Regions from separate parts of the Homo sapiens genome. Here regions 2 and 3 are each linked to region 1. The links come from fine-mapping of genetic effects on gene expression. A gene starts in region 1. Each other region holds a variant in brackets. All regions are shown on one strand. Distances are from middle to middle.

Region 1 (5,368 bases):
CAGTAAATTAACTTCCTGTCACCAAACCTCTGTTGCAGGCACAGCAGAGCCTGCGGGCTGCAGGACTGGTCAGTGACCTGGATGCAGACTCTGGACTGACCCTCAGCCGGAGAATCCGCCGGGCCCAGCTTGCCCACTACAATTTTCAGTTTGGTAAGCTGAACCTCAGAGCCAATGTTCTCCCACCTGCCGTCTGCATTCTTGCTGTTAAGTTTACCAAGTCTGGTAATGCATATTTGGGTTAATTGGGGCTCATTACCTGAGCAGGTAGGAGCCAGGATTCAGGACACCTGACTCATTTGGGCCCTGTGTTCCTTCACATTGCCCTGCCCTCCCCATAACCACTTCTGACACTCAAAATAGTTTTCCTCTTTTTAACTCCACTCTAGCTGTTGGTGTCTGTTAGGTTAATTAACCAAGGGAGCATCAGAGAGAAAGGGACGGGAGGGTTAATACAGCGTTAATTACCCTTGTTTATTTTAGACCTAGATGGAATCAGCCCTAAGGGATGAGGAGAAAGGCCTTAGGGAGAAAATTCTGGCACTGCCATGCTCCCTTTTTCATTTTCCAGGGTTCAGGGCTCTATCTCAAAGGTGAGGAGCAGAAACTCCTCAGCCAGATTACCTGATTCTTGAGTTTTGCACACCCCACTCTCCCTACAAGCACCCAGAGCAAGCTGTGCTGCAATCCCAGGGACTTGTACATGGCCCCTTTCCCTCCCTTACCGCCCAGTCAGCCCCTGCATACATCCTCCTCAGCAGAGGCCCCTCACTCTGTGAATCCAGCCCTAACAGACACCAAGAGCCAGAGTGGGACTGATGAGAGGAAACTGTTCTAAGGGTCAGAGTGGTTGGGGGGAGGCGGGGCAGTGTGAAGGCCACACCACTCCTGCCACCTTCCACTTGCTCTAATACCCCCTTCAGACACGCGCGCGCACACACACACACACACACACACACACACAGTTTCTCTCTGTGGGGTTCTCATTGTTTGTCTTTCTCTGCTTGACTCTAATGTCTCTGACACACACACACACACACACACACACACACACAGTTTCTCTCTGTGGGGTTCTCAGTGTTTGTCTTTCTCTGCTTGACTCTTATGTCTCTGACCCTGGGGCTCTTGACCAGAAGCGATAAGGCCTGCGGGGACTGAAGCACTTCCTTGTCTCCTCAGGATGAGCAGGACTGGTCATTTAGTATTAGCAGACACAGCTGAATACTTCCTTTCTGTGAACCATATCTGGGCTCTGCTCCCACCCTTCCTAAAGATTTAGGTCTCTCAAGTTTCTGCAGAGCAAAAGAAACTGTTCCATGTGGGTGAATTTGCCCTGAGGTTCCCAAACTTCCTCTACCTGCAGTGGTTGGCCAGAAAGAGCAAAGTAAGAGAACAGTGAACATTCGGACTCGAGATAATCGTCGCCTTGGGGAGTGGGACTTGCCTGAGGCTGTGCAGCGACTGGTGGAGCTACAGAACACGAGGGTCCCAAATGCCGAAGAAATTTTCTGAGCCTTTGTACATAGATGAGGCAAAAACCTGCGAGTGCCATCAGCCTCCCTCACATGGGAGACCCCAACCCAGCTGACAATGTGGAGCCCCCAGAACTTCAGAACTGTGTGGAGGCACATGTCTGCTCTCCTGAAAAGAGACTTGGTTTGGGGACCCCACAAAAGGAGGGAAGCTGTAGCTGTTTGGATGTGAGGAGAATGAAACTACAAAAAAAAATAAATTGGGCCAGGCGCAGTGGCTCATGCCTGTAATCCCAGCACTCTGGGAGGCTGAGGCGGACGGATCATGAGGTCAGGAGATCAAGACCACCCTGGCTAACACGGTGAAACCCTGTCTCTACTAAAAATACAAAAAATTAGCCGGGCATGGTGGCACACGCCTGTAATCCCAGCTACTCAGGAGGCTGAGGCAGGAGAATCGCTTGAACCCGGGAGGTAGAGGTTGCAGTGAGCTGAGATTGCGCCACTGCACCCCCCTAGGCGACAGAGCGAGACTCTGTCTCTAAATAAATAAATAAATAAATAAATACAAACTGGAAGCTGCTGGTCATATGTCTTCATCTCTGACTCTGGAGAGGTGGGATAAAAGGATGTTCCACTTTGTCTCCCTCTTTTTTGTCCCAGAGAGTTAGGGAAATTGAAAAGGGACAGTCCAGACCTCACACTGGTAGGGGAGATCCCTTGGATAGGTTTCCTGCTCCCCGCTGTAAACTCCTTTGTGCCCTGTTTCCCCAACCCCAGTTCATGAGTTGGCAGATCCCCTCTCCACAGAAGGCAGCCTGTAGATGGAGAAACTGAGGCACAAACTAGGGGCTCAAACACCTCTTGCTCCTGGATTCTCTGAATCAGTTTCTCTTGAAGGTCATAAGAATGTTCTCCTCTAATCAGTCCCATTCTTCTCAATCCTCTGAGGAGGCTTCAGGGTGACTTTGGGAGGAGTGGCTTCCAGAGGAGGAGCAGCTGGGACTGAGTCATGGCAGGAAGCTGAGGAGGGCGGGAGATCACACCAGACAATTATAAAAGAAGAGCTGGTCCTGAAGCTCACAACCGTAACAGCCACCAGACAAGCTTCAGTGGCCGGCCCTTCACATCCAGACTTGCCTGAGAGGACCCACCTCTGAGTGTCCAGTGGTCAGTTGCCCCAGGATGGGGACCACAGCCAGAGCAGCCTTGGTCTTGACCTATTTGGCTGTTGCTTCTGCTGCCTCTGAGGGAGGTGAGTTGGGGGATCAGCACTTAGGAGGGGGTCTGGGCTTGCATGGCAGGGGTCTGGGTCCAGGCATCCCAGACGGCTCATCACTAGCAGAGTGATTCTCCGTTTGGCTTTCCTTTTCTGAGCAGGCCCAAAGTGGGCCTAGGCCAGTGGAGCCTTTAACCAAGGAGGCAGAGAGCAGGGGCACAGAAGGAGAGGGGTTCCTAGAAACTGCTGCCAAGAAACACAGAATCCCAGTCAAATAGACAACTGAGTGGGGGGTGGGTTCACAGAGTGAGGGTCTCCTGCTGATGAGGATGTAGGGAGGTGGCTGGTGGGAGAGGCAAGGGAGGGAAAAGGGGCCCCCAGGCTGCTCAAAACCGGATTGCTGGCCCAGCAAGCCTCGACTGACTCCCTGTCTGATTAGAGGAGTTGAGGGGTGTCCATCCACAGACCCACCCTCCATCCAGCACAAACACATTCTTTATCTGCTTTGATGCCTGAACAAAACAGGAACCCCTCAATGCTATGGGTGGAAACTAAGAAAAAAAGGAAAAGAAAAGGAAAAAAACCACCCAGGGCACTCCTGCAGGAAGCTGCTGAGGATGTCAGCAAATCTGTCCACTTCTCTGTGAAGCCCCATGCCATCATTCTTCCCAGCTCCTGGTCTTTTGTGTCTGCAGATCACCTACAAGTGACCCTTCCCTGTGCCTGTCCCAGTCCCCCAGGCCCTAAATTGAGACCTAAACTAAGGCGGAGCTGAGACTGGCTGAAGGGGAAGCACTCAACCTTCAGGAAGCCTCCTTAACCAAAGGCCTAAAGATGTTTCAAGGGCCTGGAGTAGGAGGGTGGGTGGAGGAGGTGGATTGGGTAGGCTCCAACCAGCTCAAGGTCCAGACTTTTTCCTCTGAAAGCTAGAGACGCATCCCAGCAGAGACTGGGGAGGACAACCCACAGCCCTGAGGGAAAGACTGGCAGAGGAAATGAGGGCCTCCCTCCCCAATCCCGTATGCCATACTCCCTTTAGGCCCAACCTCTGAGCCAGTAGAGGTGGAGCTATCAGACCGCCACAGGCTTTCTCAGAACCCAGCTGGTCATGTCTAGGTGTGTTGGGGCTGGGAGAGGATTAGGGGACACGGGGCAGGTGAATACAGAGGGGCATCTCGTGTCTTGCTTGTCTGTCCTACACTCTTGATCTCCACAGCCTCCCCATCCCTTGCTGAAGTCCAGGGAAGGCCCTCCCAGTGGCCCCTGACTTGCCCTTCTTCCCTCCAGGCTTCACGGCTACAGGACAGAGGCAGCTGAGGCCAGAGCACTTTCAAGAAGGTAAGAGTTTGGGGGAGCAGCATGGGATTGGGACTCCAGGAGGCACTGTGGGCTCTGATGTCTCCCCTCTTGCTTCTAGTTGGCTACGCAGCTCCCCCCTCCCCACCCCTATCCCGAAGCCTCCCCATGGATCACCCTGACTCCTCTCAGCATGGCCCTCCCTTTGAGGGACAGAGTCAAGGTAAGGTCACCATCCCATGCCCTCCTCAGTGACCCTCCAGGTTTCTAATCTGGCCTATATCCCACTTTTCAGGTGGAAAGGAGGGAAGAGGCCCTCGCCCCCACTCCCAGCCCTGGCTAGGAGAAAGGGTGGGCTGCTCACACATTCCCCCTTCTATAGTGCAGCCCCCTCCCTCTCAGGAGGCCACCCCTCTCCAACAGGAAAAGCTGCTACCTGCCCAACTCCCTGCTGAAAAGGAAGGTGAGCGCTTGCCCACCCTCCCTCACCTCTATCCCACTATGGATCCTGTTGACACCAGGCTGATCCCTGCTCCTTGGTGCCCTCACCCCTATCTTGCAGTGGGTCCCCCTCTCCCTCAGGAAGCTGTCCCCCTCCAAAAAGAGCTGCCCTCTCTCCAGCACCCCAATGAACAGAAGGAAGGTAAGCAGCTCCCTCTCTTCTTTACCCACCTTTACCTCATGGCCTTCCCCCAGAGCATGGGCTTCGGGGCAGACAAGACGGTGGGCTCTGCCACTCACCAGTTGTATAACCTTGGGTAAGTTACATACTTCTCCAAGCCTTTGTTTCTTCATCTGTAAAATTGAGGATATACCTGTTTTAGAAAGTTATGTGATTAGATGTGCAAAAATAGCATCTATTTTCACTTGCTTCTCTGCTGAGTTCTTCTTTGTGCATGTAAACTAGCCAGGCTTTCTCTGCTAGAGATGGCCATCCCAACATGGCTTTTGCTTACTCCTTCTACCCAGTAGACCCACCTCTTCCATATCAGGAGGAGATAATCATCCATTCCATGCCGAGAGAGGGTGAGTGACAGCTTTGGTCTGTCCATCCTCCTGCCTTAGTGCTCAGGACCCTGGGGAGAGGAGCAGGAAGCCCGAGCCTTGAGAAGCAGGAGGAGGTGGGGGCAGGCTGTGAGCTGACACCTTTCACACCTCGCTTCTCTTTTCCTTTCAGTTATTTTAAAAGGAAGAGCCACAAATTGTTCTTTCTCATTTCCACTATATCCTCCCAACCCTTTCTCCTCCACCCCAGATTCTTTCAATCCTCCCAGCTCATCCAGCCTTTGTGGGTTCCTTCACATGTCCCCGCTTCCCACTGTTTTCCCCATTCCAGGAACGCCAGCTCCATTTGGGGACCAGAGCCATCCAGAACCTGAGT
Region 2 (5,368 bases), 34 kb after region 1:
TCTCTACAAAAATTTTTTTTAATTAGCCGGACGTGGTTGTGCACACCTTATAGTCCCAGCTACTCAGAAAGCTGAGGCAGAAGGATTGCATGAGCCCCAGAGTTTGAGGCTGCAGTGAGCTATGATCACACCACTGCACTCCAGCCTGGGCAACAGAGTGAGATCCTGTCTCAAAAAAAAAAAAAAAAATGAGAAAGAAGAAAGAAAGAAAGGGCCAGGCATGATGGCTCATGCCTGTAATCCCAACACTTTGGGAGGCTGAGGTGGGTGGATCACTTGAGGTCAGGAGTTCAAGACTAGCCTGACCAAAATGGTGAAACCCCGTCTCTACTAAAACTACAAAAATTAGCTGGATGTGGTGGCAGGCTCCTGTAATCCCAGCTACTACGAGGCAGGAGAATGGCTTGAACCTGGGAGGTGGAGGTTGCAGTGAGCTGAGACTGCACCACTGCACTCCAGCCTGGGCGACAGAGCAAGGCTCCATCAAGAAAGAAGGAAAGAAGAAAGAGAGAGAGAGAAAGAAAAGAAAAGAAAGAGAGGAAGGAAAGAAGGAAGGGAGGGAAGTGGAGGGAGGGAGAGAGAGAGAAAGAAAAGAAAGAAGGGAGGGAGGGAGGAAGGAAGGAAGGAAGGCAGGCAGGCAGGCAGGCAGGCACGAAGGCCCGGCACGGTGGCTCACTCCTGTAATCCTAGCAGTTTGGGAGGCCCAGGCAGGTGGATCACCTGAGATCAGGAGTTCGAGACCAGCCTGGCCAACATGGGGAAACCCCATCTCTACTAAAAATACAAAAAATTAGCTGGGCATGGTGGTGCACACCTGTAATCCGAGCGACTCAGGAGGCTGAGGCAGGAAAATCACTTGAACCCGGGAGGTGGAGCTTAAAGTGAGCCGAGATCGCGCCATTGCACTCCAGCCTGGGTGACACAGCGAGACTCCAAAAAAAAAAAAAAAAAAAGAAAAGAAAGAGGGAGAAGGGGGTGAAAGAGAGAGAGAGAAAGCAAGAAAGGGAAGAAGAGAGAGAGAGAGAGAGATAGAAGGAAGGAAGGAGAGAGAGAAAGAAAAAGAAAAGAGATAAGAGAGGGGCCAGGCGTGGTGGCTCATGCCTGTAATCCCAGCACTTTGGGAGGCTGAAATGGGCAGACCACCTGAGGTCAGGAGTTCGAGGCCAGCCTGACGAACATGGTGAAACCCTGTCTCTACTAAAAATACAAAAATTAGCTGGGCATGGTGGTGGGTGCCTGTCATTCCAGCTACTTGGGAGGCTGAGGCAGGAGAATCGCTTGAACCCAGGAGGTGGAGGTTGCAGTGAGCCCTGAGACCACACCATTGCACTCCAGCCTGGGTGACTGGAGCAAGACTCCATCTAAAAAAAAGAAGAAAAAAGAAGGCCAGGCGTGGTGGCTTATGACTGTAATCCCAGCATTTTGGGAGGCCAAGGTGAGTGGATCACGAGGTCAAGAGATCGAGACCATCCTGGCCAACATGGTGAAACCCTGTCTCTACTAAAAATACAAAAAAAATTAGCTAGGCATGGTGGCGTGTACCTGTAGTCCCAGCTACTCGGGAGGCTGAGGCAGGAAAATCGCTTGAACCCAGGAGGCGGAGGTTGCAGTGAGCTGAGATCATGCCACTGCACTCCAGCCTGACAACACAGCGAGACTCCATCTCAAAAAAAAAAAAAAAAAAAAAAAGCCAGGTGCAGTGGCTCACACCTGTAATCCCAGCACTTTGGGAGGCCGAGGCAGGTGGATCACAAAGTCAAGAGATCAAGATCAGCCTGACCAACATGGAGAAACCCTGTCTCTACGAAAAATACAAAATTAGCTGGACATAGTGGTGCAGGCCTGTAATCCCAACTACTCGGGAGGCTGAGGCAGGATAATCGCTTGAATCAGGGAGGCAGAGGTTGCAGTGAGCTGAGATCATGCCATCGCATTCCAGCCTGGGCAACAAGAGCAAAACTCCGTCTCAAAAAAAAAACAGAAAGAAAGAAAAGAAAGGGCCGGCACGGTGGCTCACGCCTATAATCCCAGCACTTTGGGGGCGGATCACCTGAGGTCAGGAGTTCGACACCAGCCTGGCTAACATGGTGAAACCCCGTCTCTACTAAAAATACAAAAATTAGCCGGGCATGGTGGTGGGTGCCTGTAATTCCAGCTACTTGGGAGGCTGAGGCAGGAGAATCGCTTGAACCCAGGAGGTGGAGGTTGCAGTGAGCCCTGAGATCACACCATTGCACTCCAGCCTGAGTGACTGGAGCAAGACTCCATCTAAAAAAAAGAAGAAAAAAGGCCAGGCGTGGTGGCTTATGACTGTAATCCCAGCATTTTGGGAGGCCAAGGCGAGTGGATCACGAGGTCAAGAGATCGAGACCATCCTGGCCAACGTGGTGAAACCCTGTCTCTACTAAAAATACAAAAAAAATTAGCTGGGCATGGTGGCGTGCACCTGTAGTCCCAGCTACTCGGGAGGCTGAGGCAGGAAAATCGCTTGAACCCAGGAGGCGGAGGTTGCAGTGAGCTGAGATCACGCCACTGCACTCCAGCCTGACAACACAGCGAGACTCCATCTCAAAAAAAAAAAAAAAAAAAGCCAGGTGCAGTGGCTCACACCTGTAATCCCAGCACTTTGGGAGGCCGAGGCAGGTGGATCACAAAGTCAAGAGATCAAGATCAGCCTGACCAACATGGAGAAACCCTGTCTCTACGAAAAATACAAAATTAGCTGGACGTAGTGGTGCAGGCCTGTAATCCCAACTACTCGGGAGGCTGAGGCAGGATAATCGCTTGAATCAGGGAGGCAGAGGTTGCAGTGAGCTGAGATCATGCCATCGCATTCCAGCCTGGGCAACAAGAGCAAAACTCCGTCTCAAAAAAAAAAAGCAGAAAGAAAGAAAAGAAAGGGCCGGCGCGGTGGCTCACGCCTATAATCCCAGCACTTTGGGGGCGGATCACCTGAGGTCAGGAGTTCGACACCAGCCTGGCTAACATGGTGAAACCCCGTTTCTACTAAAAATACAAAAAATTAGCCAGGCGTGTTGGTG[C/T]ACGCCTGTAATCCCAGCTACTCAGGAGGCTGAGGGAGGAGAATCACTTGAACTTGGGAGGCAGAGGTTGTAGTGAGCCGAGATTGCGCCACTGCACCCAGCTTGGGCAACAAGAGTGAAACTCTGTCTCAAAAAAAAAAGGAAAAGAAAGAAAAAGGAGAGAAAGAAAGAAAGAAGAAAGAAAAAAAGAAAGAAAGAGAAAAGAGGGGAGGAGAGAAGAAAGAAAAGAAAGGTCCTGTACAGATGGCAGCATCATTTTTTCCCCCAATTCCTGACACAGAGGCTGAGCCATTATTGTCAACCTACTGTGAAAAGACATTATGTCCTCTCTGTCACTGGCAAATCCTGACCAGAGTCTTGTTGGACTCTGAGAGCATCCCCAGCAAAGAACTCTGAGCATCACAGAGGAGCAGCATGAAGTCTTCCTTTAATGCAGTCTTGATCTACCTAGAACATCAGCTACAAAATAATTTTGCACAGCATCATTAACAATAGTGCTGCCTTCGTTTTGTATATGACTCCACAGCTTTCATACATATTCCATCAGTTGTATTTGGGGTTTTATGAAAACCTGTGAAGTTGGCCAGGCACGGTGGCTCACGCCTGTAATCCCAGCACTTTGGGAGGCTGACGCGGGTGGATCACCTGAGGCCAGGAGTTCGAGACTAGCCTGGCCAACATGGTGAAACCCCGTCTCTACTAAAAATACAAAAATTAGCTGGTGGTGGCACATATTTGGGAGGCTGAGGCGGGAGAATTGCTTGAACCTGGGAGGCGAGGTTGCAGTGAGCCGAGATCCTGCCATTGCACTCCAACCTGGGCGACAGAGCGAGACTCCATCTCAAAAAAAAAAAAGAAAAAAATATAGGAGTATATCTTTTTTTGTTGTTTTTGTTTTTTGTTTTGAGATGGAGTCTCGCTCTGTTGCCCAGGCTGGAGTATAGTGGCGTGATCTCGGCTCACTGCAACCTCCGCCTCCCAGGTTCAAGCAATTCTCTTGCCTCAGCCTCCCGAGTAGCTGGGACTATAGATGCCCTCAACCATGCCCAGCTAATTTTTGTATTTTTAGTAGAGACGAGGTTTCACTATGTTGGCCAGGCTGGTCCTGAACTCCTGACCTCGTGATCCACCCGCCTTGGCCTCCCAAAGTGCTGGAATTACAGGCGTGAGCCACCGCGCCTGACCGAGTATATCTTTTTTAAAAAAGAAAATAAATAAAGAAATAAAGTCTACATAGCGGTGACTGGGAGACCAGAATATCCCATTCATGTCTTGGTCCTCATCGTACCAAATGGATCACATCCTGTTTCTTCATCATTTCATCAGGTGCAAGGCAGTTGGGCCGTGATGGGGCAGGACAACAACCAGAAAATGCTGGAATGTGGCCAGAGCTGAGGCAGTGCTCACCCCACACACATTCATTAAATGCCTACTGTGTGCAGAGTGAGGTGGTGAATACAAAGGTAAACACAGCAAGGTGGTCTCACCCTCCAGTCCCTGGAAGAGCACAGGTCACCACTGGCTGCTCTCATAGCAGCTGCCTAGTATGGGCGGCTGCGTCAAGCCAAAGCGGAATGGTCAGAAGAACAGCATCAGTGAGACAAAACAGTGGAGACAGCATGACAGGACACGGACTCAACGGCTGGAAGCCAGCCTGGCGCGCAGCAATTGGGAATGGGGTGTCTGTTTTGGAACAAAGGAGTTGAGCAACCATGATTCGGAGAGGCAGAAAAGCAAACACCAGGCTTTCCGAAAATGGTTGCTATGACCACAAACCTAAAGACAGACAGCTGCATGTTCATTTCTGGGCCCCAACTGTACATATTATTGGTATTAGCATCAGCATTATCTTGGAATAGGGACAACGTCTTATATGAGGCATTCATTCAAAATGTTATTTAATTTATAAAACTTCCTTATGCTACTGCCAGGGGAAAAAATTATTAAGTAAATTCAGCTAAATTTCTGGAAATTTTATTTGCATACAATGTATACAAATAACAGCGCCTAATTTAGAATCCTGGCTCTCTCACTTTCTAGCTGAGAGATTAGAGACAAATTAGTGGATTTGTCTTTGTGTCTTTGTTTGCAAATCTGTAAATGGTGTAACAGTCTCCACCTCACAGGGTTACAATGAGGACAGAGTGAGGTAATGTGTGTAAAGCTCTTCTAACAGCCCGGTCGGGGGCACAAAGTAAGTGCTATATACATGTTAGCTATATTATTATTATTAAATCAGTATGTTGAGCTCAAAGTCAGACCAATGTCAGCCTGTCCCCTCTTTTTTTCCTTATCTGTCCAATCTTTAGAGATAATTTTGGATGAAC
Region 3 (5,368 bases), 57 kb before region 1:
TTGTTGTTGTTGTCTTTTTTTTGAGATGGAGTCTCGCTTTGTCACCCAGGCTGGAGTGCAGTGGCGCACTCTTGGCCTCACTGCAACCTCCACCTCCTAGGTTCAAGTGATTCTCCTGCCTCAGCCTCCCGAGTAGCTGGGATTACAGGTGCATGCCATCATGCCTGGCTAATTTTTGGTTTTTTAGTAGAGACAGGGTTTCACCATGTTGGACAGGCTCGTCTTGAACTCCTGGCCTCAAGTGATCCACCCACCTCAGCCTCTCAAAGTGATGGGACCATAGGCATCAGCCACCACACCCAGCCAACTATATTTACTTCTGTATTGTCAAAGTTGGTAATATTTACATTCTGTTCTATAATCATACTTAATTACTCTTTGCTACTCTAAAGGTTGAAAAACAATTTTTCAAAAAGCTTACATTATAACTCTGTAAACATTGTTCATTGCAAGGTTTTGTGGTAACTATAGTTGTACTAGAAGTTTTGTTTTTTCCTAGAGTTTTGTTTTCTCTTTTATTGTTTGCCCTTGCATAGCCTTTCTAAATTCTCCATCACACCAGCTATTCTGAATTCCCTTTTCCCCCTGGGTCCTCCCTACCTGAATTTTCATTTTCCGTCCCCAGTTTAGGTTATTCCCTAAGTCTTAGGCTAAAATAGCTCTTAACTGTTGTCCTGAGTTGAGTCCTCTATTTTCCAGATTCCATGTCTTTTTTTCTTGGTTTCTATCATTGTACTGGAGCAGTCTCAAGTAATTTCCCAAAAAAAAAGTGTTTGTGAGAGGGAAATTTTGTCTGACCTTATATTTAGAAATGTCTTAGGCTGGGCACAGTGGCTCATGCCTGTAATTCCAACACTTTGGGAGGCTGAGGTAGGAGGATCACTTGAGGCCAGGAGTTCAAGATTAGCCTGGGCAACATTGTGAGACCCTTCTATACATTAAAAGAAGAAAGAAAAGGAAAAATACATTAAAATGTCTTAGATCATTGATTTTCTCCCCCTGCCCAACCCCGAATTGGCTAATGGATAAGCAGGTTGATTTTCAGCTTTTAGGAAATGTATACATTTAATACAGTAAATTTCCTTCTAAGTTGCATCCCATGAGTTTTTATATTTAAGTATATCTTTTGCAAAGAGCATATAGTTGGATCTTGTTTTAGTTTTATTGTTATGTTTTGATCTAGTCTGAAAATCTTTGACTTTGCAGTGTTTAGTCTACTTATTGATATGCTTGGGTTTAAGTCTACCATCTTTCTATTTGTCCTATGTGTCCTTTTCTTTGTTACTCCTTTTTTGCTTTTTTTAATTAATCAAATAATTTTTAGATTTCTATTTTGTCTCCTGTTTTTGCTTGCATGTACTCTCTCTTCCTCTCTTCCTTTCTCCATCCCTCTTCCTCCCTCCTTTCCTCTCCCTCCTTCCTTCTTTCTCCCTCCTTCCATCTCCCAGATTTCACCTTTTTATAAGGATACCAGTCATATTAGATTAGGGCCCATCCTGATGACCTCACTTAACTTGATTACCTCTGTAGAAATCCTGTCTTCAAATAATTCTGGGGTACTAGGAGTGAGGACTTCAACATATGAGTCAGGGGGTGCAGAGATAGATAATTCACCCATAACAAATGGCTTCGTGTTTTTTATAAATTTTCAAAAATTCTCAGCTATTGATCTCAATTATTGTTACTGTTTCATCTCCCTCCTCTCCTCTTGGAACTCACATTAGTATGTATATTGGATCTCATTGTTGTGTTCCAAATGCCTTTTTTTATAGTCCTTTCTGAATTTTCCATCTTTTATTTCTCTTCTCTGCTTCCTTCTAGATATTCTACTAACTAGTCTTGTAATTCATTAATACTTTATTCTGTTGAATCTTATCTATGATTAAACCAAACCCATCTGTTCTTAGTTGGTTTACTTTTCAGTTCTAGAATTGCCACTGAATTTTTTTAAAGAAAGAGTTCAATTTTCTGGTAAAATTTATTCATCTTTTTAAATCTCACCATTATGAAAGATCTTAAGTCCAGTATGAAGACCTTTTTTTCCTGAATTATTTGAAAATAAGTTGCTTGTACCCCATTATCCAAAATGTTTTAGTGTGTATTTCCTACTGGACATACTCTTCTACATAACCATCAGGTGTATGTATGTATTTATTTATTTAGCCGGGTGCGGTGGCTCACGCCTGTAATCCCAGCACTTTAGGAGGCCGAGGTGGGTGGATCACGAGGTCAGGAGATCAAGACCATCCTGGCTAACACGGTGAAACCCCGTCTCTACTAAAAATTAAAAAAAATTAGGTGGGCGTGGTGGCGGGAGCCTGTAGTCCCACTACTCCGCAGGCTGAGGCAGGAGAATGACGTGAACCCAGGAGGCGGAGCTTGCAGTGAGCCGAGATCGCGCCACTGCACTCCAGCCTGGGCGACAGAGCAAGACTCCGTCTCAAAAAAAAAAAAAAAAAAAAAAGTTATTTATTTAGAGACGAGTCTCACTGTGTCACCCAGGCTAGAGTGCAGTGGCGCAATCTCGGCTCACTGCAACCCCCGCCTCCTGGGTTCAAGCGATTCTTCTGCCTCAGCCTCCCGAATAGGTGGAACTACAGGCGCCCACCACCACTTTTTGTATTTTTAGTAGAGATGGGGTTTCGCCATATTGGCCAGACTGGTCTCAAACTCCTGACCTCAGGTGATCCACCTGCCTCGGCCTCTTAAGGTGCTGGGATTACAGGCGTGAGCCACCGTGCCCCTCCAGGTGTAGTTATATAATCAGGAAATTAATTGATACTTTGACACACTTATAATCTAATCCTCAGAACCGATTCATATTGGCCAGTTTTTATAGGAAAAGATCCTATCCAGAATCACAAGTTGCATTCGGTTGTCATCTCTCTTTATTCTCCTTTGATCTGGAACAGTTTCTTAGCTTTCTCCTTGATTTTC[G/A]TGACCTAAATATGTTTGAAGATTACAAGTCAAATATTTTGTATAATGTTTCCCAGTTTGAGTTTATTTGATATTTCTTTGTGATCAGGTTGAGGTTATGCATCTTTAGAAGGAATATCACAGAAGTGATTCTGTGTTCTTCATGTTTCGTCTTGTCAGATGGCACACAAGTTTGGTTTATCTCACTACCTGTAATGTTCCCCTTGATATTCTGATTAATGTGGCATCTTCCAGGCTTGTCCATTATAAAGTTTTCCCTTGGTGATTGTTATGGGTTAAATTATGCACCCCAGGCCGGGCGCAGTGGCTCAAGCCTGTAATCCCAGCACTTTGGGAGGCCGAGGCAGGTGGATCACGAGGGCAGGAGATCGAGACCATCCTGGCTAACATCGTGAAACCCCGTCTCCACTAAAAAATACAAAAAATTAGCCGGGCGCAGTGGCAGGCACCTGTAGTCCCAGCTACTTGGGAGGCTGAGGCAGGAGAATGGCGTGAACCTGGGAGGCGGAGCTTGCAGGGAGCCGAGATCGCGCCACTGCACTCCAGCCTGGGAGACAGAGCAAGACTCCGTCTCAAAAAAAAAAAAAAAAAAATCGTCCACCCCAAAAAGATGTGTTGAAGCCCTAACCTTCAGTACATGTGAATGTGACCTTATTTGGAAATAGGGTCTTTGCTGATATAATCAAGTTAAAATGAGTTCACTGGGGTGGGCCTTAATCATCCGATATAACTGGTGTCCATATAAGAAGAGGGAAACTGGCTGGGTGCAATGGCTCACACCTGTAATCCCAGCACTTTGGGAGGCTGAGGCAGGCAGATCCCTTGAGGTCAGGAGTTCAAGACCAGCCTGGCCAATATGGTGAAACCCCGTCTATACTAAAAATAGGAAAAATTAGCCAGGCATGGTGGCGGGTGCCTGTAATCCCAGCTACTTGGGAGGCTGAGGCAGGAGAATCGCCTGAACCCAGGAGGCAGAGGTTGCAGTGAGCCGAGATCACACCATTGCACTCCAGCCTGGGCAAGAGAGCAAGACTCTGTCTCAAAAAAAAAAAAAAAAAAGAGAGAGAGAGAAACTGAGAAACTGGACAAAAGCACAGGGAGAACATCATGTGACAGCATAGGCAGATATTGAAGCCATGCAGCTACAAGCCAAAAACATCAAGGATTGATGGGCACCACCAGAAACCAGGAAATGGCAAGGAAGAATTCTGCCCAGTGTCAGAGAGAGCACAGCCTGCTGACATCTTAATTTTGGACCACTAGCCTTCAGAGACAATAAATTTCTGTTGTTTTAAGCCACTCATTTTGTAGTACTTAATTAACCACTGCCCTAAGAAACTAATATACCAATTAATGAATGTTTTGTGAGGAAGTATTTTGAAACTATGTAAATATCTTGTTCCTTACCAGACTTTCGATGTATTCATTTATTTATATGAATGGACTTGAATCCTATTTACTCACTGTTTTAATTCATTACTACTAATATTTACTTTGATGCTCAGTTTGACAAAGTTTTGGTCAATGTGAGCTCCTTTCTGTGTTCTTTTGACATATCCCCTTTTTTTTTTTTTTTTTTTTTTTTTGAGACGAACTTTCCACTCTTGTTGCTCAGGCTGGAGTGCAGTGGCACGATCTCGGCTCACTGCAACCTCCGCCTCCCAGGTTTAAGCAATTCTCCTACCTCAGCCTCCCAAGTAGCTGGGATTACAGGCATTCGCCACCACGCCTGCCTAATTTTATATTTTTAACAGTGATGGGGTTTCACCATGTTGGCCAGGCTGGTCTCAAACTCCTGACCTCAGGTGATCCGCCTGCCTCTGCCTCCCAAAGTGCTGAGATTACAGGCGTGAGCCACTGGCACCACTTTTTTACACTACTAATTACTTTTCTAACAGTGTAAAACCTTGCTCCCTTGTCTTCAATATATTTACTTTTTTTTTTTTTTTGGAGACGGAGCCTCGTGCTGTTGCCCAGGCTGGAGCGCGGTGGCACAATCTTGGTTCACTGCAACCTCTGTCTCCCGGGTTCAAGCGATTCTCCTGCCTCAGCCTCCTGAGTAGCTGGTACTACAGGCGCACACCACCACGCCCAGCTAATTTTTGTATTTTTAGTAGAGACGAGGTTTCACCATATTGGTCAAGCTGGTCTTGAACTCCTGACCTCATGATCTGTGCTCCTTGGCCTCCCAAAGTGCTGGGATTACAGGCGTGAGCCACCGCGCCTGGCCTCAGTGTTTTTACTTAATCAGTTGTGGCCAGTCTCCCAGCACTTCCATCTCTCTCCAACCACCTTTATGGGTTTTCTTTTTATCCTGCTTAGACTCCAACATCCTTTGCAATGCCTCCCTCCCATGCAGACATTTTTCTCATTTTTGGGTCCATTCTCTCTAAGCCACTGAGTTTTTTCCCTCAGCTCCAGCTAATGGGTT

Direction of the effects. Alleles are on the strand shown, and positions count from the first base shown. SD is a standard deviation of normalised expression in the study named.
As copies of C replace T in region 2, the expression in visceral fat of the gene that starts at base 2,557 in region 1 goes down (small effect, 0.32 SD a copy in GTEx).
With allele A in place of G in region 3, the expression in sun-exposed skin of the gene that starts at base 2,557 in region 1 is higher (small effect, 0.26 SD a copy in GTEx).

Evidence for each region. PIP is the estimated chance that this variant, and not a neighbour inherited with it, causes the effect.
Region 2: its variant is the best candidate, but not a certain one, in a credible set for the expression of ECM1 in visceral fat (GTEx, PIP 0.80).
Region 3: its variant is the best candidate, but not a certain one, in a credible set for the expression of ECM1 in sun-exposed skin (GTEx, PIP 0.82).

Annotation. Positions count from the first base shown.
Region 1 is chr1:150,505,553-150,510,920 of GRCh38, forward strand. It overlaps ECM1 (extracellular matrix protein 1), which reads left to right and starts at 2,557. Exons shown (of 10, transcript NM_004425.4): 1 at 2,557-2,727; 2 at 3,979-4,029; 3 at 4,109-4,210; 4 at 4,370-4,450; 5 at 4,550-4,630; 6 at 5,324-5,368. The coding sequence starts at 2,658. It overlaps TARS2 (threonyl-tRNA synthetase 2, mitochondrial), which reads left to right. Exons shown (of 18, transcript NM_025150.5): 17 at 39-153; 18 at 1,364-2,050. The coding sequence ends at 1,512. RefSeq lists an enhancer at 4,942-5,368.
Region 2 is chr1:150,539,230-150,544,597 of GRCh38, forward strand. No RefSeq gene overlaps it. Among named protein-coding and RNA genes, the nearest start is that of ADAMTSL4, 7.5 kb to the right of the region's middle. RefSeq lists enhancers at 4,077-4,577, 4,578-5,078. The variant C/T (reference allele first, on the strand shown) is at 3,042.
Region 3 is chr1:150,448,164-150,453,531 of GRCh38, forward strand. The region is part of intron 7 of RPRD2 (regulation of nuclear pre-mRNA domain containing 2); the gene reads left to right. Among named protein-coding and RNA genes, the nearest start is that of TARS2, 37 kb to the right of the region's middle. The variant G/A (reference allele first, on the strand shown) is at 2,938.